Linked DNA regions of Homo sapiens. The protein of the gene in region 1 interacts with the protein of each later gene in a biochemical or structural test. Each region holds a gene or a part of one and is shown in the gene's direction. Other genes may lie near its edges. The genes, in order: NUP153, ATP8B1, XPO7, IPO5 and TPR.

Region 1 (3,849 bases):
GAGATAGGGTCTCACTCTGTTTCCCAGGCTGGAAGGCAGTGGCAGAGTCAGGGCACACTGCGTCCTCGACCTCCTAGGCTCAGAAGATCTTCCCACCTCAGCCTCCTGAGTAGCTGGGATTACAGGTGCACGCCACTACGCCTGGCTAATTTTGAAAAATTTTTTATAGAGATAGGATCTCGCCATGTTGCCTAGGTTGTTCTCAAACTCCTGGGCTCAAGCAGTCCACCTGCCTTGGCCTCCCAAAGTGCTAGGATTATACGCATGAGTCACTGCACCCACTGATAATTACCATCTTTGTGTTGGTGTTGGGAGGGATTGATTCTGGGTATCTGCTTCTAAACATACTCTGCCATCCTTTTTTTTTTTTTTTTTTTTTAATTCCCACTACATCCTCACTTCCATAGGTATCTGGAACCTAAACATTTTGGGTATGTTTGGTGTAAATGCAATTGCTTCTGTTCTTTCCCTACTGCTCGTTTAGTATCAACTCTAGTCAGCCTTCCAGCTTCTAAACCTATATCTTTGTAAAAATCCCTTGTTGTTTTAATGCACTTTTCAAAGAAGATAGAGCTAAGTGTATTTGTTGATTTCACTGTCTTTAACCATAAGTCCAGGGTGCCCTTTTCCCCTTGGTCATAGGTAAGTTGTGTGATTTGTTGGAGGTGTCAAGTATGTACTATGTGTCAGTGGAGAAAATAGTTTTCTTTAGATTAAAAGACCAGAATATTTTAATTCTTTGCATGTTTTTATATGTAAAGGTCAGAGTCTTTAATTTAAAAACCTATCATGTTGCGGCCGGGTGCAGTGGCTTACGCCTGTAATCCAGCACTTTGGGAGGCCGAGGTGGACAGATCACAAGGTCAGGAGATCGAGACCATCCTGGCCAACATGGTGAAACCACGTCTCTACTAAAATACAAAAAATTAGCCAGGCATGGTGGCACGCACCTATATAGTCCCAGCTACTGGGGAGGCTGAGGCAGGGGAATCACTTGAACCCAGGAGGCAAGGGTTGCAGTGAGCCAAGATTGTGCCACTGTACTCCAGCCTGGGCAAGAGAGCGAGACTCCGTCTCAAAAAACAAACAAACAAACAAAAAAACCTATCATTTTGCCCTAATGAAGTATTTCTGCTTTAACTATTGCAGGTTCGGCTTTCCAGTTTGGCAGCAGCACTACAAATTTCAACTTCACAAACAACAGTCCATCAGGAGTGTTCACATTTGGTGCAAATTCTAGCACACCTGCAGCCTCAGCCCAGCCTTCAGGCTCGGGGGGCTTTCCATTTAACCAGTCTCCAGCAGCATTTACAGTGGGGTAAGAGAATTTTTTATTGAAATGGAGAAGTTACATTGGTAAGGGTATGTGCATGTATATGTTTTGTTTTTAAAAGTCATCAAGATTCCGTATGGTTTGGGTAAAATTAAATATGTTCTCCAACATAAATTTACCATACTATAATTCTGGAGGATTATATTACAGTTTGAGAAAAAAATAACAGTAGCGTGTGTGTTAGGTGTAGCAGAAAATGTATATACCAATGTGAGTCTACTCCCCCCCCACCCGACCCCCCTTACCCTTGTGCTGCTCATGGTAAATGTTAGCATTTGGAAATTTTGCTCAGAGCATCATGTCACATTATGAAGTTTTTATTTTTCACAGGTCAAATGGGAAAAATGTGTTCTCTTCTTCTGGAACTTCATTCTCTGGTCGCAAGATAAAGACTGCTGTTAGACGCAGGAAATAAAGGTCACATTGGTGTTGTACTCAATTTTAACAACAGCTGGTGCCCTGCTTTCAGATACTGGATTGTACTTTGTGCTGGGGTTATCTGAAGTCAGATCTGCCTAAGGACTTCTTTAATTTTGGAATTTTCCTCCTTTCTCTTTCGTTACAGAAGCCCCACCCTGCCTCACCCACCCTTTTTTAAATAAATAAATAGCTAGACTGGTGACTGATTCTTCAGCAAAAATATTTTATGATCCAGCAGATTATTCACTGATTTGACATAGTCTGGCTGTACCCAGGAATGGAGCCTGCACGGTGAATGGCTTTGTATAGAACCTCTTTGTCTACACCATTATGTGCGCTGATAAGCGTTCATGGAACGCGTTGAAATTGTAATTATATCTGAGGAATTCTGTATAGATTAGAATTCTGTATAGATTAGAGAGTGTTGAAACGGATGATTTCTATGCTGAGTTTGTGCTGGTGTATGTGTGAAGTGAGTGAGTTGGGTGTATTGTGCGCTAAACTTTTCTGATAGAGGAAGCCTGATTAAAGAATGGTCCGTGCTAAGGACTTGTTAGATCTAGTTCACTCTCCATTTAATAATTATATGCTATTTCTATATTTTCATTCTCCTATCACCTGTCTTGCCTTTTTCATTATTTTATTATGAAACTTGTGTAAATACAATTTTGTTTCTGTACTTTTTGGCATAACATAAATCTGTGAACTTGAAATTTGAATTTTGTGTTAGAGATTTTTTTGTTGTTTGTTTAGTCTTGTCTCAGATTTTATTATGTAAATCCCATTATTCAAAGTTGCCTAAATCCATTTGGAAATCTTTAAAAAAAAAATTGGGGATTCTTAAAGTTGAATTTATTGGCTTTTCTGATCCAGTTTTGTTTGGACCAAAAACCAGTATTGTACAAAGTATTAAGCATATATTTTTATATTTACTAAAATGGACTGTGGTGACTTTGGATAATAAGGAAAAGTTTAATATTAAAGCCATGTTTATTACAGTATAATTAACATGTTAAACCATGGGATAAATGCCATCAATAAAAAATTATGACATACTTTTTGTTCTAGTTTTACCTCATAATGAAGGCACACAGTATTATTGGGGGGACTTTGTAAAATAAAGATTAACAGTGTCTCATTAGAAGAATACATTGACATGATTTAGACAACTCCTAAGAGAAAGGGAAAGTATCTGAAAGTATCTGAATGCACAACATATAGAAGGTACCCTACTTCTTGCCTGGTGCTAGGAATCATGCCTAATTTGCATATCGACTTAGGTACCTTTTTTAAAAGTTGAAAATACACACATTCATTTCTCTTTGTGCTTCTATCTTCCTTGGTAAGTTACTGGATAGTGTTTATTAAAGTTCTTGGAAATACATACACAAAAACTACAGTTGTCTCTTGGTGTGTGCAGGAGATTGTTCCCAGAACTGCACTCCCCCCCCCCCCCAGTTCTCCCGCCCCCAAACCACAATCCACAAATTTCAGCAGTGGACCCTGCAGAACCTGAGTATACCAAAAGCCAGCCCTCCGAATGTGCAGGTTTTATATCCCACGAATACTGTGTTTTTGATCTGTTTTTGGTTGAGTTAAAAAAAAAAAAAAAACCCGTGATAAGTGGGCCCACGGTTCAAACCCGGGTTGTTCAAGGGTCAGCTGCACTTTCTTTTGTATTATTTTACTGCATTCTTTTTTTTTTTTTTAAACTGGATTCCCATGGTCCATAAAAGAGCTCTTGGAACAATATTTGGTAATTTTATTTTTCAGTTGGAAATGTACAGTTATTTAAATTGTGCTCAGTTTTAATTTACTGAACTTCTGGTTGGTTGGAGTTTATGTTTTTCCAAGACGGAGTCTTGCTCTGTCGCCCAGGCTGGAGTGCAGTGGTGCGGTCTCAGCTCACTGCAACCTCTGCCTCCTGGGTTCAAGCAATTCTCCTGCCTCAGCCTCCTAAGTAGCTGTGATTACAGGCGCCCGCCACCATGCCCGGCTAATTTTTTGTGTGTATTTTTAGTAGAGACACGGTTTCACCATGTTGGCCAGGCTGGTCTGGAACTCTTGACCTTGTGATCCACCCGCCTCAGCCTCCC
Region 2 (4,654 bases), on another chromosome or scaffold:
AGCACATTTTATTATTGAAAACATTTCAAATTAGACTTTGACTTTCACTTGTTTTATTATGGAGAAAAGGATTTTTCTTCTGCATGTGATTCCTACAGATTGCTATAGAAAAATAGTGTGTTTGTGTGAATCTGGTTATGTTCATGAACTAAAAAATATCATTACTAGGTAAAATCAATTATTCAGTTCAACAGTAAGAATGAGCCTGGCAAACATGACAAAACCCCATCTCTAGAAAAAACACAAATTGTTTGGTGGCTTGGCAGCGAGTTGCGTAGTCCCAGCTACTTGGGGGCTGCGGGTGGTGCTGAGATGGGCAGATCACTTGAATCCTGGAGGTTGAGGCTGTAGTGAGCAGAGATTGTGCCACTGCACTCCAGCCTAGGCAGTGGGAGTGAGATGCTGTCTCAAAAAACAAAATAAAATAAAATAAAAACAGCAGGAATGACATTTGACTTAATTTTATTCTATTGTAGAAACTGCTGAAAATATAGGATTTGCTTGTGAACTTCTGACTGAAGACACCACCATCTGCTATGGGGAGGATATTAAGTGAGTAAAAGCCTGCAGTATGAAATTACGTAATAGCTCATCTTTGCAAATGCAAGACTGTCTGTAGAAGATAGCAGATATGAAGAAATAGGGGTTACGATGTGTCACTTGGGGCAGTTTCCTCATGTTTAAATGAGGCAAGACAACAACAGGCAGTTCCAAGTAATCAAGGTGCAGCCTAAATTTGAGCAGATTTTACTTTTAGGGAAACTTGGGGCCCTTCAGAGGCCATTTTTCTCCATTCCTTCTCAGCTCAGGCCAGGCGCAGTGGCTCATGCCTGTAATCCCAGCCCTTTGGGAGGCCGAGGCGGGTGGATCACCTGAAGTCAGGAGTTCTAGAGCAGCCTGGCCAACATGGTGAAACCCCGTCTCTACTAAAACTACAAAAATTAGCTGGGTGTGGTGCCCGGTGCCTGTTATCTCAGCTACTCGGGAGGCTGAGGCAGGAGAATCACTTGAACCCAGGAGGCAGAGGTTGCAGTGAGCCAAGATCACGCCACTGTACTCCAGCCTAGGTGACAAGAGTGAAACTCTGTCTCATTAAAAAAAAAAAAAAAACTCGGTTCACCTACTAAAAATTCCGTAAAAAGCCTGTAATATCGCTAGCAAATTAATATGAATTATAGTCCTATTTTGCTTTTTCTAGGAACTTTTACTTTTGAAAGGGAAATAGAAGAAAGGAAAAAAAAAACCCAAAACTTTTGCGGGAAGGAAATGTGTGGGTGGGTTACATCATGTAGGTCCCCTGTAATCTAGTCTAGGTGGGGCAGGCCTGATAATTCAAATGTTAGCATATGCTGAAACGTTTGTTAGCTTTGAATCAGAGTCGCAGCAGACCTGGAAATGTATGATGAAAAAGCCCTGTCTTGTTCTGAAGCTATAAATATGCTGCACACAGTTACTGTGATGTGTTTACTGATGGCCTGACAGTTCCTCAAGATTTTTCCCTACAGAGCTTCTCTCAGGCCAGCATGAGGTCAGATTAAACTGTTAACATACACATTTGCCAGGTGTGATAAAGTGATGAGGGAATTGATGGTCAATATTAGTCTTATTTCTAATGATGGTGATAAAGCATTTTCTAGTTGTTCTAGTATATTAGGTATTCCGTCAAATTAGACAAAATCAGTAGCCTTATGATCTAAATCAGTTCCATTTAGAACTGATTTAGTTTATGTGCCCAAATAGAGGTACATAAGCCATGCCCCTTTGTGCTTTTAGGTTTTAAAAAAGTAGCAACAGGCTGGGCACGGTGGCTCATGCTTGTAATACCAGCACATTGGGAGGCCGAGGCGGGTGGATCACGAGGTCAGGATTTTGAGAACAGCCTGACTGATATGATGAAACCCCGTCTCTACTAAAAATACAAAAATTAGCCAGGCATGGTGGCATGTGCCTGGAATCCCAGCTACTCGGGAGACTGAGGCAGGAGAATTGCTTGAACCTGGGAGGCAGAGGTTGCAGTGAGCCAAGATAGTGCCACTACACTCCTGCCTGGGTGACAGAGCAAGACTCCGTCTCAAAAAAAAAAAGTAGCAACAGACAAATAAATGCTTAATGCTTAATGAGTTTACTTTAGTAGTTTTGGGCTTCAAGTAATCTGATTAATTACTATATGGCTTTGTTTATTTTTTGTAGATGGGGCTGTAAAAAAATTTCTGGTCTCTCTTTTGAAAGTCTTAAAAATTGGTCCCGAAGCTAAAGTAAAAGATAAAATGTATGCAAGTAGCAAATGTTGTGACCATGCCCTTAGCTGAGTTTACCTTTATAGAGAGAGGAATCATCTTCCCAGGTGGCTCTTAAATTGATGATTCCTATAAAATGATTTGAATAGAAGGTATCTTCATTTTTTTTCTCTTACGGCCTTTCAATGATTTGTCTTAGTCACTCACTTTTAACTTGAAAATGAGAATTAAATTGATGTGGAAAAGGGATACTAGATACTTAATCCTCTAGTGCAGTGATTCTCCGTGGGGAGTGAGTTTGCCTTCCAGGGACCCTTTGGCACTGTCCAGAGACACTTGCTTGTTTCAGCTGCAGAGAAGTGCTCCTGGCTTCTAGTGGGTAGAGGCCAGGGATGTTGCTAAACATCCTCCAGTGCAAGGGATGGCCACACAAAATAAAGGATTATTAGGCCCAAGACATCAAGAGTGCAAAGGCTGAGAAGCCTTCTTTGGAAGGAGAAGAACAATGGCTTTTTGTATGTAATAGTAAGAGTCCTGAGCCAGAAGTTACAAGATAACTGAGTCCTCATTCTAGTTTTCCTATCAACCTGCAGCAGGCAAATCACATCACCTTCCTCTGGCTTGATTTCCTTATTTGTAACATGAAGAGATTGGACAAGATATTTAAGGTCCCTTCCACTCCAAAATTTCATGACTCATTTTTCTATCACATGAAAGTGTTACACGTAGCCTTGTCACATATATCATTTTAACACAAACATTTAATTTGTTGATATAAAGCACTGAGAATTTCTCAAACACAGATATAGTTTTGTTTATATGAAAATAAGTTTATTCCTAACAAACAATAGCCAGTATTCTAATTCAGATCAAGATTGCCTTTCCTTTTTTTTTTTTTTTTTTTTCTTAGAAAGACTCTGTCACCCAGGCTGGAGTGCAGTGGTGCAATCTTGGCTCATTGCAACCTCCGCCTCCTGGGTTCAAGTGATCCTCATGCCTCAGCCTCCCAAGTAACTGGGATTACAGGCACCGCCACCACGCCTGGGTAATTTTTGTATTTTTAGTAGAGACAGAGTTTCACTATGTTGGCCAGTCTGGCTGCGAACTCCTGACCTCGACTGATCTGCCCGTCTCAGCCTCCCAAAGTGCTGGGATTACAGGTGTGAGCCACAGTGCCTGGCCTAAGATTGCCTTTCTTCTGTTGCTGTGTATACATTTTCAACTGTATCTTCCTTTGACTGTCTTTGAAAAATGATGAATTACATGGTACCCCCATGGTGGATGAATCGAGACATAGTAAAATTACATGTCGCTCAGTTAAAAAAAAAAAAAAAAAAGGGCTGGCCAGGCGTGGTGGCTCATGCCTGTAATCCCAGCACTGTGGGGGGCTGAGGCGGGTGGATCATGAAGTCAAGAGATTGAGACCATCCTGGCCAACATGGTGAAACCCTGTCTCTACTAAAAATACAAAAATTAGCTGGGCATGGTGGTGCCCGTCTGTAGTCCCAGCTACTTGGGAGGCTGAGGTGGAAGAATAGCTTGAACCTAGGAGGTGGATGTTGCAGTGAGCTGAGATAACACCACTGCACTCCAGCCTGGTGACAGAGCGAGACTCTGCCTCAAAAAAAAAAAAAAAAAAAAAAAATGGGCAAAGCACTTTGAGTAGACATTTTTCCAAAGAGGACATGCAAATGGCTGATAAACATGTGAAAGGAGGCTCATCATCACTAATCATTAGGGGAAGATAAATCAAAACCAAAGCAAGATAACACCTCACACCCTTTAGGATGGCTACTATCAAAAACAAAACACAATAGAAAATAACAATCATTGTTGAAGGAACCTTTGTGTGTTGTTGATGAAATATATAAAATGGTGCAGCCACTATGCAAAACAGTATGGTGATGTTTCAAAAAATTTCAAAAAGGATTACCATATGATGCAACAATCCCACTTCTGGGTATATCCACAAAATAATTGAAAGCAGGATCTCAAAGAGATACATGCACACCCATGTTCACAGCAACACTGTTCACAGCAGCCAAGAGATGGACGCAACCCAGGTGCCCATCAGTGAGTGAATGGATAAACAGAATGTGGTGCTTCCACATAATGGAATATATTCAACTTTAAAAAGGAAGGAAATTATGACATATATTATATAGATGAACCTTGAAGACATTAAGCTAAGTGAAATAAACCAGTCACAGAAAGACAAATACTGTTTGATTTCACATATATGAGGTATCTAGAGTGCTCAAATTCATTCAAACAGAAAGTTAACTGGAAGTTACCAGGGACTGGAGGGCGAGTGAGGTGAGGTGTTATTGTTTAATAGGTATAGAGTTTCCGTTTTGCAAGATGAAAAAGTTCTAGAGATTGGTTGGATAACAATGTGACTATAGTTAACACTACTA
Region 3 (4,654 bases), on another chromosome or scaffold:
CTGTCACCAGGGGCCTACTGGAATTTGTATGCCTTTGGAGTAGGAAGGCTGATCTAAACGAGCGCTTCTAATGTGGTTGAATAAACATATATGACATGTCTACTCAGGCAATCGCATCCTGACACTAGGAGAGGTCCCAAAGGATCAGGTCTATGCTCTGAAGCTCAAGGGCATCTCCATCTGCTTCTCCATGCTGAAGGCTGCTCTCAGTGGGAGTTACGTCAATTTCGGAGTCTTTCGTCTCTATGGAGACGATGCCCTGGACAATGCTCTGCAGACCTTCATCAAGCTGCTCCTCTCTATTCCTCACAGTGATCTCTTGGTAAGCCTTACGCTGCATTGCCACAATCTTGTTCCTCATCACATTCAGCCTTTTTCACCTGAGACCAAGATTGAACACTGCTCTTGAGAAACTATGTAAGCTAGCTCCTTTTGCTCTAACTAAGTCTTCTGTTTTCCCACCTAAAAGGAGCTAAGCTATTTAAGATCGTCTCCCTGCATGCTGGAGTGCATAGTGCCTAAGCTGATTTTCTTCCTCTTCCTCTCCCACAGGATTACCCCAAGCTCAGCCAGTCTTATTATTCACTACTGGAAGTCCTGACCCAGGACCATATGAACTTTATTGCAAGCCTGGAACCTCACGTCATCATGTATATTCTCTCTTCCATTTCTGAAGGACTTACTGCACTTGGTAAGCACCTGAGGTGGGTGGGTGAGTTGGTGGGTTTGTTTTTTACCACTTAACTAAACAGAAAGAGAGAATCTTGCCCCAGTGTCCAAAAAGATCACCACTGCCTTGGGGGTTTGGCCATAACAATAGAGTATATAATGCACAGCACATGCTTATCCAGCACACACTCACTGATTCCCTTCCTAAGTACAAGGCCCTGTGGAAGCACTGAGGATACGGTAATTAACAGCATATAGTCCCTGTCCTTAAGGGGCTTATCTGGTGGGTAGAACAGACACATGAACAAACAACTGCCTGTTTACCATACTTACCACTTAAACATTACAATAGGGGTGAGTACAAAGTGCTACACAAGCCCTCAAGAATACCTAGACTCTTGGTTGTGAGGAAGTCAGGATCAAGGAAGACTGGCTGGAAGACTTGGCATCAAAGCATAAACCTAAAAGCTGGACAGATGTTACCCTGGTTAGCCAGGGAGGGTTCCTAGCAGCAGAGACAGCAAGCACTTGCACCTGTAGGCAAGAAAGAACCAGGAAATCCAGATGGCTGGCACACTAGTCCAGAGGAGTTAGGAATGAAATGAAGCTTTAGAGATAAGCAGGAGCAAATCTGGAGATCATGAAGGGGGCCCGCCTGTAAGCCGTATTAGGCTGTTTGAATTCTGTCCTGAGGGCCGTGGAAGCTGGGGAAAGGTTTCATGCAGCTAGCTCCATAAGTTTTTTCATCCTAGTCCATATGGTTTCTGTCAACCATTTTGTTTCTAGGCTACCTTCCAACAATTTTTTTTTTTTTTTTTTTGAGACGGAGTCGCTCTGTCGCCCAGGCTGGAGTGCAGTGGCGCGATCTCAGCTCACTGCAACCTCTGCCTCCCGGGTTCATGCCATTCTTCTGCCTCAGCCTCCCAAGTAGCTGGGACTATAGGCGCCCGCCACCATGCCTGGCTAATTTTTTTGTATTTTTAGTAGAGACGGAGTTTCACTGTGTTAGCCAGGATAGTCTCAATCTCCTGACCTCATGATCCGCCTGGCTTGGCCTCCCAAAATACTGGGATTACAGGCATGAGCCACCGTGCCTGGCCCAACAATCTTAGTAGGTATATGTGTTCAGAGAATAAAACACATTTTTATATTAGGCTGAGCAAAACATAAGTAGGAGGATTAAGTCAACTGCCAAATAGTGATGATATGTTGCAAATACACTTTTGGATTGTCAACTGTGGTGAATTATCCATGCCTCTGTGCGACTTTGATACACATTTACTTCTATCAGTCTATCAGGGTGCATAGCCGTATCTAGTACAGTCCAATCAAGGTATCAGCCCTTGCTTTGGAAGACTTTTTTATGTCTTATTGAAAATACAGGGACCTGGCCGGGCGTGGTGGCTCATCCCAGCACTTTGGGAGGCTGAGGCGGGCAGATCACAAGGTCAGGAGCTCGAGACCAGCCTGGCCAATATGGCAAAACCCTGTCTCTGTACAAAAATTAGCTCGGCGTGGTGGTGTGTGCCTGTAGTCCCAGCTACTCTGGAGGCTGAGGCAGAAGAATCACTTGAACCCGGGAAGTAGAAGCTGTGGTGAGCCGAGATCGTGCCACTTCTGCACTCCAGCCCGGGCGACAGAACGAGACTCCGTATCAAAAAAAAAAAAAAGAAAGAAAAAGCAAGTAGAGGGACGTTTGCATAAACTATCAGTCCCGTAGGAATCAGAGACTTGTTTACTCTTTTAAGGGTTCAGCCCCTTTGTCCTTTGGCCTTACCTCATCAGAGTTCTGTCCACAGGTTGTGCTGTACTGTTCCCTTTGTAAAGACGCATAGATGAGTCTGCAGCTCCCCCCAGAGATGCTTTGGAGATAAACAGATAATACAGCATACCGTGTTCTAACAAACCATAAACATTCAGGGGCTACGTCATTCTGGGTTTAATTACATCCCACTGGTAACTCAGAGCATAGGCTCATACCCCAGGCTTCTTGGATTCTAATCACAGCTCCTGCAATTACTAGCAGTTGATCCTTAGGCCGATACATAACCTCTCCTAATTCTGGTTTCCTCATTTGTAAAACAGAAAACCTAATTCCTGAGTTCTTGAGAGGATAAATTAGAGATAACACCTATAAAGTACTTAGCACAACATCTGGCACAAAAGAAGCACTTGCTGAATCAAACTATTTGTTATTTTGTGTGAGGCAGAAGATGTACGTACATCCACAACACATTGAGCCGATAATTTCAGTATTCTTTATTACCACATACTCACTTTCAAACTTAGAAATTGAGCCCTACTGTACAATGAGGTTAAGAGGTTAACAGGAGTCATCTTGAGCAACCGCCTTGGTTGAATTGGCCACGGTACCCTAATGGATCTCACCCAAAGATAGTCCATATTTGTCCAGGCCACCATCAGCAGCTCTGTCCTACCCCTGCCTTTCTTTCTTGCAGACACCATGGTATGCACAGGCTGCTGCTCCTGCCTGGACCACATTGTGACATACCTCTTCAAGCAGCTGTCACGTAGCACCAAGAAGAGGACCACACCCCTGAACCAGGAGAGCGACCGCTTTCTGCACATCATGCAGCAGCATCCAGAGATGATCCAGCAGGTAAGAAAGTGGAGGCTTAGGAGGCAGTGATGGGGTGTCCGACAGAGGAAGGACCTCTGCAAGACAGGGGAGCCCACACACGATTAACATGACATCTCATCAGGTTCCTGCTGCTGAGATGAAGTCCGTGTCTTAAAGTTGCAGTGGATTTTGAGTTTGCCAAGTAATCACTGGATGTAGAAAACGCTCAGGTTCTGGATTATTCTTCTGAGTGTCACAGTGATCCCTATGCCCTGGACCTGTCTCATGATCACTATCCTCTTTCTGTGAAAATTACTTTGCTCACCCACTGCTATAAATAGAGCAGGAGTTAGCAGCATCCAGCTTTCTAAAGGCTTGTGTTCCTGTTTACAAAACAGGAAGAAGAATGCAAGACAGAAGGAAATAACTGGCCACAGAGAGATCAAACCATATGCTTGCCCTTATTTTATTTGTATGTGCCTTGAAGTAACTTACAGAAATACATGCTAGATGAAAATAGATAAGGAAATGGGATCAGTAATTATTGAGATTTTAGCCAGTCTTACCTTTGTCCACACCGTTCTCTAAAGAAGCAGTGAAATAATTCAGGACTCCATTACATTCACAAGATGTCATAAAGCTGTCAACTCCGAGTACCTGGAAGGGATCATGCAAGGTGGTTTTGCTTACTGTAATTTTGTTTACGTGACCCCATCCCATTCCCCACAACTCAGGGTGACCTGGAAAGATCCATTGGTAAGTGAAGTTCAAACCAATTTTAAGAACAAGAAAGGAAATGAATATCTTAGAAGAAAAGGTAACCTTGAAATAGAAGACTCAGATGAAGCTTCACAAACTATTTGTCTGATTTACCCTATACAGAAAAGGCCTTCAGCCTAATATACTCCTGTATTTGGAATCTGTCGTTTTATCTTGGGTAGCAATACATTAGGTCACTGCCTGAAATTCTCCATTCCATTTTCAGATGCTGTCCACGGTGCTGAACATCATCATCTTTGAAGACTGTAGGAACCAGTGGTCTATGTCCCGACCACTACTTGGCTTGATATTGCTTAATGAAAAGGTGAGAGAGCCAGCTCCCTGGTGCCAACCCAGAAGCAGTGGCAACCACGCACTTGGTATCACCAAGCCCTGGGAGAAATGTGTATAGAAACACCCCACGGTGGTGAAACAGGGAAAATGGGTCATTTACTGAGCAAGTCCCATTTGTGCTTTCAGTATCACATAATCATTTAACTGTTAGAAGTCAGCATGTGTGGTAGCTCACAGACACAGGATAAAGGAGTGTTTCCCCTAGGCAGTAAGAGAAACCTTTCAAGGAAATAATGTACCTGGGTATCAGAGGACCTAAGACCTAAGTTCTAGTTCTAGCTCTGCTATAAA
Region 4 (4,654 bases), on another chromosome or scaffold:
GGTTTTTAAATAGTCCTCTTGTTAGAAAAGATTTAGCCCTTATCCTCAATCTCACAGCCACTAAATAGTCAATTCACACAAGCCAAGTGATTTGTAAAATAGGAGTCTCTGCAAACTGAGTCCAACCAGCTTGAATAATAGCATCATAACATAATGGGATCCCTTTCTGGTGGTAGTGTCCGGGACCAAATACCAAAATTCCTATTTTAAGCTGTATTAAGATTTTCTAAATGTAGCTATGTTTCAAGAGAAAATGCTTGGTCTATGGATAGCTGAAGCCATGTAAAACAAGCATTCTTATCACATGGGTCCAATATCGCTGATTTTACATGGCAGATAGACCTTAAAACGCATTCCTACTTTTCCCACTCCCTCCCACATTCTTTAAAAGGGTAGGGTTTATTATCTCTCTGAATACTCAAATGAAAACTTAAGTGTATAAACAAAACTAGAAAAATCCTTAGATTAAGATGGGAGGAAGATGGTCTTTTGACCTCTTAATATTAGTTTGATCTAACATCTTTTTTTTTTTCTATTTTTTGAGACTGAGTCTCATTTTGTTGCCCAGGCTGGAGTGCAGTGGCGTGATCTCAGCTCACTGCAGCCTCCACCTCCCAGGTTCAAGCGATTCTCCCACCTCAGCCTCCTGAGTAGCTGGGACTACAGGCCTGCGCCACCATACCTGGCTAATTTTTTTTTTGTATTTTTTGTAGAGACAAGGTTTCACCATGTTGGCCAGGCTGGTCTCGAACTCCGACCTCAGGTGATCCACCTACCTCCCAAAGTCCTGGGATTACAGGCATGAGCCACCGCACTCAGCCTGATCTAAGTTCTTTAAATGATCATTCCATATTGTTAAACAATGTTTCTAAGTGAGAGGTAGAGAATTATATTAGTTGGTAGGAGGCCTAAATGCTTGAAGACAATTTAGAGAAAACTAGTTATTTCCTTGGCACAAAGTAAATCCTACTACTCCTGAAGTATAAGAAAAAATAAAAATAAAAACAATAAAAATAAACAATTCTTTGATCAAATAATTTTTTTAATTGACTTGTTCTGATCATTAGGGCCTACTTGTTCAGCCCACTATCCTTACATGCATTAGTGGATTCCTTCTCTTTTTTATCTCTGAAGATTTCAGAAGTAGATCAGTGGATTCCTTAAATGTTAAAGAAACCCTGTCTTCTGTAATCCCAGCTACTCTAGAGGCCGAGACAGCAGAATCGCTTGAACCCATGAGGTGGAGATTGCAGTGAGCCGAGATCGCACCACTGCACTCCAGCCTGGGTGACAGAGTGAGACAGAATGAGACTCTGTCTCAGAAAAAAAAGTAAAGAAAGAAACCCTTGCAATCAGAAAGAAAAAGAGAATTACAACTTAAAGTGACTAATGTTAAATATACTATTATATTTGGACTATATATAAACTAGAAACCTCCAGGGCCTGGCCTCAGGTGGAGTTGTCTTGCAGCTGATTGCTTGGCTCTCTTCTCTCTTCCCAACCTGATGTCATCCACTTCCACAACTTTAAATGCCATGAAAGTGATGGCTTGCCATTTCCAGCCCTGCCCTCTTCCTGGGCTCCATTGTCCCTCTATCCTCAGCCACGTGGCTGTTTCCTGTGTCCCACAAAAGTGCCACGAAGGAAACCCAGCTCTTCTCTCCAGACCTTACCCCAAACACCTCCTTCTCATCTTAATAGCATCATCAGTTGCTCAGTCACAAAACCTGGGCATTCTTGATCTCTCCCGACCTCACCCCCACCATCGGGAGAGGACTCATCAAGAAATTCCAGAAGCTTAAGTGTCAGGGACTCTCCTTTGCTCAGGACCCTCTATCTCATTTTGTGTTACCCCATTGCAGGGTCCTCTATCTCATTTTGTGTTTAGTTTTTATTTTTCTTATGGAAGGCCCTCAAACTGTATGATTTAGGCCTCACAAACCTTGGATCGGCCTCTGCACCCTCTGTCCAGCTCATTTCCAAAAGAAAACTATCTCAAAAAAAAAAAAGAAAGAAAGAGAAAAGAAAACCATCTAAAACCGACCACACAACAGTGAACACTGTTGATTGCTACCACCTCAGTCCAAGCCCCATCCCACCCCACCCCACACTGCAGCCAAGATGATCTTTGAAAGTTGAAAGCTTCTCAGGTCAGATCTCTTTCTTAACCCTCCACTAGATTCCCCTTTCCCCTAGGACAAGTCACACTACAAGAGGCAGGACACGGTGGCTCACACCTGTAACCCCAGCACTTTGGGAGGCTGAGGCAGGTAGATCACCTGAGGTCAGGAGTTCAAGACCAGCCTGGCCAACATGGTGAAACCTCGTCTCTACTAAAAATACAAAAATTAGCCAGACGTGGTGGCGGGCACCTGTAATCCCAGCTACTCGGGAGGCTGAGGCAAGAGAATTGCTTGAACCTAGGAGGCAGAGGTTGAAGTGAACTAAGATCACGCCACTGCACTCCAGCCTGGGTGACACAGCAAGACTGTGTCTCAAAAAAAAAAAAAGAGAGAGAACAAGTCACACTACAGAACCATCACAATGCCCTAGTAGCAGAACATGCTGCTGAACTATCAGGGTGCCCTGGGTGATCTGGCCTCTGCTGGCCTCTCAACCCTCTCAGCTTTAGCTATCCCCTTCTTTCCTTTCTGGAATACCCCAACTTGTTTTTGCCTCTGTCCTTCGTATTGTCACCTCTGCTTGAGAGAGCCTCCTCCATTTCTTTATTTGCCTCATCTTTCATTGTCACCTCCTCTCAAAAGACTGTCCCGGCAGGGCACGGTGGCTCACGCCTATAATCCCAGCACTTTGGGAGGCCGAGGCGGGTGGGTCACAAAGTCAGAAGTTCAAGACCAGCCTGGCCAACATGGTGAAACCCCGTCTCTACTAAAATACAAAAAACAAAAATTAACCGGGTGTGGTGGCGGGCGCCTATAGTCCCAGCTACTTAGGAGGCTGAGCCAGGAGAATTGCTTGAACCCGGGAGGCGTAGGTTGCAGTGAGCCTAGATAGCGCCACTGCACTCCAGCCGGGGTGACGGACTGGGACTCTGTCTCAAAGAAAAGAAAGACTGTGTCCCTAGGGTATGACCCCACTCCAAATCCAGTCATTCGTGATCCCATTATCTTCTTTTTTCACCTATAACTGTATGCAAGTATCTTATCAGTTTACTTGTTTATTATCTGAATTCTTTCAAAAGAGCTAAGCTCCCTGAAGGTGGGAACCCTGTCCGCATGCTCACCGTGGAATCCCCACAGCCTAGCAGCACCTCCCACAGAGGGGTGCCTAATATTTTTCTAAACAAATGAATGAAGAAAATGTTCATTAAACAAATACTACTGCAGTTAAATGTGGCATCAAGCAGTACTACACATAGGATGCATGGAATTGAAGCCTATGAACCATTATAAGGTCCCTTTCATTTGTTCCTCATTAACTGTGGATGACTAAAAATCCATGCTGCCAATAGCTCCAACTATGAGATGCAGATCGATGTCACAATTCAGACTCCATTATGTATGTCCTCACAATGCAGGAGGTGAAATGTGTATGTCATGTGTCCAAATTGTAAGATACTTGCTGTAAGTAGCAAAAAGATGGGAAGGAAAGTCTACAGACCAAATCATATCTGAATCTCCCCATTCTCCCTCTCCACAAATATTGGTTTAGGAATTCTCCGAAGTTTGAAGGTTATGAATGGTTATCACTCAAGGATTCAGAACTAAGGTAAAAATACTGTGAATGATAGGGGGAAAAAATCACTAATTGAGGTCTAAATCAATATCCTTCAGCTCTCTAAGGAAATGTATTTTTAATATAATAGCTTTATTGAGACATTCATACACCATAAAGTCCAAATTTTACTTTTTATTTTATTTATTTGGTTTTTTTTTTTTTTGAGATGGAGTTTCACCCTTGTCACCCAGGCTGGAGTGCAATGGCATGATCTCGGCTCACTGCAACCTCCACCTCCTGGGTTCAAGCAATTCTCCTGCCTCAGCCTCTTGAGTAGCTGGGATTACAGTCGCGCACCACTACGCCCAGCTAACTTTTGTACTTTCAGTAGAGACAGCGTTTCACCATGTTGGTCAAGCTGGTCTCGAACTCCTGACCTCAGGTGATCCACTCGCCTGAGCCTCCCAAAGTGCTGGGATTACAGGCATGAGCCACCTCACCCAGCCTAAAGTTCAACCTTCTAAAGTGTACAATGGAGTGTTTAGTATATTCAGTGGGCTGCACATTCATCACTATCACCCTTTCCTCACCCTAAAAGAAAACTCCATACCTGCTAGCACTCACTGATTCCCCTACCCACCCCATGCCCAGGCACATGGCAAGCACCAATCTACTGTCTATGGATGTGCTGATTCTGGACATTTCCCATAAGTGGGACCAAAAAAATGTGTGGTCTTTTTGTCTGATTTCCTTCAGGCAGTCTAATGAGTTTAAGGTTCACTCATGTTGTTACATGTATCATTACTTTATTCTTTTATTGCGAAGTAATATTTCCTTGTATAGTTAGAAGACATTTTGTTTATCCATTCACCAGTGGATGGACAGTTGAATTGTTTCCACTTTTTGGCTGTGGTGAATAATGTTGCCATGAACATTCATGTACAAGTTTTTGTGTCAACATATGTTGTCTTTTCTC
Region 5 (4,654 bases), on another chromosome or scaffold:
AAGAAACTTATCTTACAAAAAAAAACTAGGATGAATGTTATGAAATCTTATTTCTTTGTAATTTTGAATATTACTAGCTTTTAGATACCGAAATCGTGTAAGCATATATGATATCTTTATTTAAGATTAGTTCTTTAATATGTCTGAAAATGCATTATAAACTCACAAATTTTGGTAAATACTAGATAGTTCAGTCTTCACCTTTCAAATACTCTCCATTTTCAAAGCTATGTTCTTATAACTCATTGCTAATTAGAATTGTGTATATTAAAAAATGATGACTAATCTGGTTTTGTATAGTTTTAAATAAATTGTTTATGTTAACCACCTATCAAAAAAATTCAGAAATCTTTGTTATATTTATATTTTGAATCTAAATATTGTTTTTAATTCCTGAAGGTAAGGAATTTGTATGTTGAGAATTATGTATTTATTTCATGTTGGATTAGAAAATAAATATAAAGAAAAAAAATTCACAATTAATACCCCTTTGTTTTAGCCACTATTAGTACATTAGTATCCCTTTTCATACATGTAAGCGACGTTTTTCCAAAGAAATAATATTATATGCTTATATTCTTTTGTATACTTTTTTCACTTGATTCATTATCATGAAAATACAGTTAAGTGTTGAAAATTCAACTATAATGCATCATTTTGATTAGCTGTTTAGTATTCAGTTATGTGGAAAACCATAACTAGTTCCCCATTTTTGGAGATTACAGTTGTTTCATAGAAAATTCTGTTTTGAATACCTTCAGGGATAAAATTTCTTTGCAAAGCTGTGATTATTTTCTTAGACAAACTTGCAGAAATGGAATTACTGAATATAAATATGTGAGTGTATTATTACTGTTTGTTGTCTTAGGTTATGGAGACATCGGCTCAGTCCTCTGGAGACCATCAGGAGCAGCATGTTTCAGTCCAGGAAATGCAGGAACTCAAAGAAACGCTCAACCAAGCTGAAACAAAATCAAAATCACTTGAAAGTCAAGTAGAGAATCTGCAGAAGGTATGAGTGTGAGAACAGTCTGTTCCTAATTCTTTCCTGTTATACACCTAAAGAAATATGTGTTAACTACTGACACTTTGTCTTACCATGTGGGAATGGATACATTTTATTCTTTTTACTTTGAATGGCTCATGTATGTAAGTAGTACCCAATCATCTTCAAGTGTGCATTTAGTTGGTCTGACCACCATTTTTATACTTATACTTCCATTTAATCTTTTAAAAAGCAAATTAATAAGTTATACTTTAAGTTGCTACCACATACAGTTTATATTGAAATGATTGAATTCCATGGTGAATACTTTGTTTTCCTTTAAAGACATTATCTGAAAAAGAGACAGAAGCAAGAAATCTCCAGGAACAGACTGTGCAACTTCAGTCTGAACTTTCACGACTTCGTCAGGATCTTCAAGATAGAACCACACAGGAGGAGCAGCTCCGACAACAGATAACTGAAAAGGAAGAAAAAACCAGAAAGGCTATTGTAGCAGCAAAGTCAAAAATTGCACACTTAGCTGGTAAATATCTGTTTAAAGTTTGAACTTGGTAGTGAAAGTTGATTATGTGTTGCAGGCCTAAAACTAAATGGAATAGAAATAAAAGGTATCTACTTATGAAGGGTGTTTGTGTGTGTATGTGTGCTTTAAATATTAGGAATAATTAGTTGGACACAAAGAGCAATCCTAATTTTCAAGTGATGAGGATATCCTTGATATGATGAAATTTTTCTCAATTGTTGGCTGGCAGTAGATAATGGAATACTGCTATCCTTCTGCTTTCATGGATAACAATTCTATCTTGTGACAGAGATCCTTTGAGCCCAGACCGTGCTGTCTAGAAACCTTATGTAGACTGCATAAAGATCTTTACCAGCCCAGGGATTTTTTTGTGCCTCGTTTGGTGGAGGACCCCTCTAGCTTTTCAGGGAGAGTATCATGTCAAATTTATGAAGAACCTAGTTCTTCAAGGCTCAGGGCTTTATTCAGCCTTGCCTATCAGTCTGCTGAGTAGTTAAATAAAATGTCAAATCAGTTGGATTTTGTTACAGGCATTTTTTTAAAATGATCTCTAAGACAGTGTCCTAACAACTTACTTGATTTTAAAAGTTCTTGAATTATTTTTAAACAGTGCTGTAGATTATATGAAATAAAAATTTTGCAATTCATAGTAATGAATTGCATGATACATTGAAATATAAACGGGCTTCTGTTAACTAGGATCTTTAGCTTTTTGAGATTTTAGTTAGGAAAAAGTAAATTTTTATGTTGGAGTAAGTATATTTTATATTCTAGTAATAAGTTAAAGCATGAATGTACTTAGAACTTTGCTCATTGAGATGTATGATGTATCATAACTAATGTAGATGTTATAGTAGTAGAATCTGATGTGACCATGTGCCAATTAAGTGCATAAATGCTGTTTTAAATGTTTGATTATAATATTAATATAATCGCCTGGTTACTTCTTTAGGTGTAAAAGATCAGCTAACTAAAGAAAATGAGGAGCTTAAACAAAGGAATGGAGCCTTAGATCAGCAGAAAGATGAATTGGATGTTCGCATTACTGCGCTAAAGTCCCAATATGAAGGTCGAATTAGTCGCTTGGAAAGAGAACTCAGGGAGCATCAAGAGAGACACCTTGAGCAGAGAGATGAGCCTCAAGAACCTTCTAATAAGGTGATTAGCTAATTCTGCTTAAGTAACAAATTGTTTTTCTTTGTACATTTTACTTGAAAGTGCTTGGTGATATAGGAGCCTTTGTCAGTGAATTTTGGCTAAAATTCAATATATGCGGAGAGAATTAACAATAATGACAATTTTTTTGTGGCATTTTTAGTGGACTCTTGTGGGCTAGGAACAACAATCAAGAGCTTTCTCTTTATAGGTCCCTGAACAGCAGAGACAGATCACATTGAAAACAACTCCAGCTTCTGGTGAAAGAGGAATGTGAGTTTTAGTTATTTCATAGTCTGTTATTTTTCTTTTAAAGCTCAGGGAATATCTAGTGATCTTTCTGTTTAGGAAAAAGAAATCTGTGTATTCTATTGTAAAAACATACACTAAAGAGTTGTTTTCTCTGCAGAACTGTATCATGTATTTGCCAGCTTGTTTTCACCATACTTTCAGTCCTATCAGATGAAGCTTTGTGACAGAGAAAACGTCTCTCATCTTTTAGTTTACAGTTGGTTTCTAAGTTAGGCTGCTACTGATTTTCCCCGTGATGTTACATGATGACAGATAGAAAATGCTGGGCTGAGACTTGGGTTCAGCAATTCAACAGCTAGATACATTTTACATTGTCAGGATGCACCACTCTGGAGCATTCCCTGTGTAGTTTTTAATGCTTAAATTCAAAACAGCTTTAATAAGGCTCTGAAATATTTAGTGAACAAAAAAATGGAGACCTATACTCACTGTGTTTTTAAAAGTATTTGCATAATAATTTGTTATTAATTATTCTTCCATTTTCTCCTCTATAAGTGCCAGCACATCAGACCCACCAACAGCCAATATCAAGCCAACTCCTGTTGTGTCTACTCCAAGTAAAGTGACAGCTGCAGCTATGGCTGGAAATAAGTCAACACCCAGGGCTAGTATCCGCCCAATGGTTACACCTGCAACTGTTACAAATCCCACTACTACCCCAACAGCTACAGTGATGCCCACTACACAAGTGGAATCACAGGAAGGTTAGTAAAATAATACAGATCTGATGAGACTGCTTATTTAGATTTATTATGAGAAGATGACAGTAATTTCAAAGACAAATGAAGCATCCACTACAGCTGAAGTCACGTCATTGTAAAAATGGGTGTTTAATATTTGAAGGACATACTTCTAGGACCAAAATTTTCACTTGTAATGACAAAGAATATATGAAATCCACTTTGGAAAATCATACTGAATTACTGGCTCAATCCAACATTGCTTTCTCACTGAAACTGACCATTTCATTGCTTTCTTCAATTTTTTCCCATGACACTCTTGTTATTCATTACAGCAATTACAACTTTGTATTTTATTCTGTGGTATACATGCTTTTTACTCCACTACATTGAGCTCCTCAAGGGCAAAAATCTCAGCTTCTTATTGTTTAATCCCTTTACCTAACTCCACAGTAGGTGTTCAGTAAAACTTTGCTACCTGCATATTTCCTTAGATTCTTATCTTGACAAATGTTAGAATTCAGTAAATTATTCAAGTATTTCTGTGCTGTGAAAGTAGAGAATGTTTTATTTCAGCTACATCCAATAAACTAAATATATTACTAATCAAATTTACTATCTGTTATATCAATTAAAAACTAAATGATGCTTAATGAAAAATTCTAATTTTACTTTGAGCTTAATTTCATTAATTTTATTCAACAGTAATTTAAATGAATAGATGCAAAATCAGTTACAGATATTTATTTAATTCAGGCAACATTTTATTGCATGCTACCATATCAATTACATAGGGAATATAAAAATGCATAATACATTACCTTTACCTACAATGTATTTGTCTACCAAGTGCCAAATCTGTGTGAAAGGTGACATGTACCACAGAATAGGAAGGATAATTTCAGCTTTGATAAAAGTAGAAGGCTTATATTCAGCATTATAATTATTTTTCAGCTATGCAGTCAGAAGGGCCTGTGG

What was found.
Region 2: the proteins of NUP153 (region 1) and ATP8B1 interact in a surface display test, tested with the Homo sapiens proteins (one large-scale study listed by IntAct).
Region 3: the proteins of NUP153 (region 1) and XPO7 form a complex in vitro, tested with the Homo sapiens proteins (one study listed by BioGRID).
Region 4: the proteins of NUP153 (region 1) and IPO5 form a complex in vitro, tested with the Homo sapiens proteins (one study listed by BioGRID).
Region 5: the proteins of NUP153 (region 1) and TPR form a complex in vitro, tested with the Homo sapiens proteins (one study listed by BioGRID).

Annotation. Positions count from the first base shown.
Region 1 is NC_000006.12:17,613,996-17,617,844, reverse strand, and holds the end of NUP153 (nuclear pore complex protein Nup153), read left to right. Parts: intron 1-1,149; coding exon 1,150-1,318; intron 1,319-1,663; coding exon 1,664-1,748; 3' UTR 1,749-2,808; downstream 2,809-3,849. UniProt on the Homo sapiens protein: Component of the nuclear pore complex (NPC), a complex required for the trafficking across the nuclear envelope. Functions as a scaffolding element in the nuclear phase of the NPC essential for normal nucleocytoplasmic transport of proteins and mRNAs.
Region 2 is NC_000018.10:57,662,990-57,667,643, reverse strand, and holds part of ATP8B1 (phospholipid-transporting ATPase IC), read left to right. Parts: intron 1-476; coding exon 477-552; intron 553-4,654. UniProt on the Homo sapiens protein: Catalytic component of a P4-ATPase flippase complex which catalyzes the hydrolysis of ATP coupled to the transport of phospholipids, in particular phosphatidylcholines (PC), from the outer to the inner leaflet of the plasma membrane.
Region 3 is NC_000008.11:21,998,984-22,003,637, forward strand, and holds part of XPO7 (exportin-7), read left to right. Parts: intron 1-107; coding exon 108-322; intron 323-552; coding exon 553-691; intron 692-3,128; coding exon 3,129-3,289; intron 3,290-4,235; coding exon 4,236-4,334; intron 4,335-4,654.
Region 4 is NC_000013.11:97,956,675-97,961,328, forward strand, and holds part of IPO5 (importin-5), read left to right. Parts: intron 1-3,672; exon of another isoform or gene 3,673-3,729; intron 3,730-4,654. UniProt on the Homo sapiens protein: Functions in nuclear protein import as nuclear transport receptor. Serves as receptor for nuclear localization signals (NLS) in cargo substrates.
Region 5 is NC_000001.11:186,333,371-186,338,024, reverse strand, and holds part of TPR (nucleoprotein TPR), read left to right. Parts: intron 1-868; coding exon 869-1,012; intron 1,013-1,330; coding exon 1,331-1,529; intron 1,530-2,481; coding exon 2,482-2,687; intron 2,688-2,895; coding exon 2,896-2,957; intron 2,958-3,491; coding exon 3,492-3,700; intron 3,701-4,630; coding exon 4,631-4,654.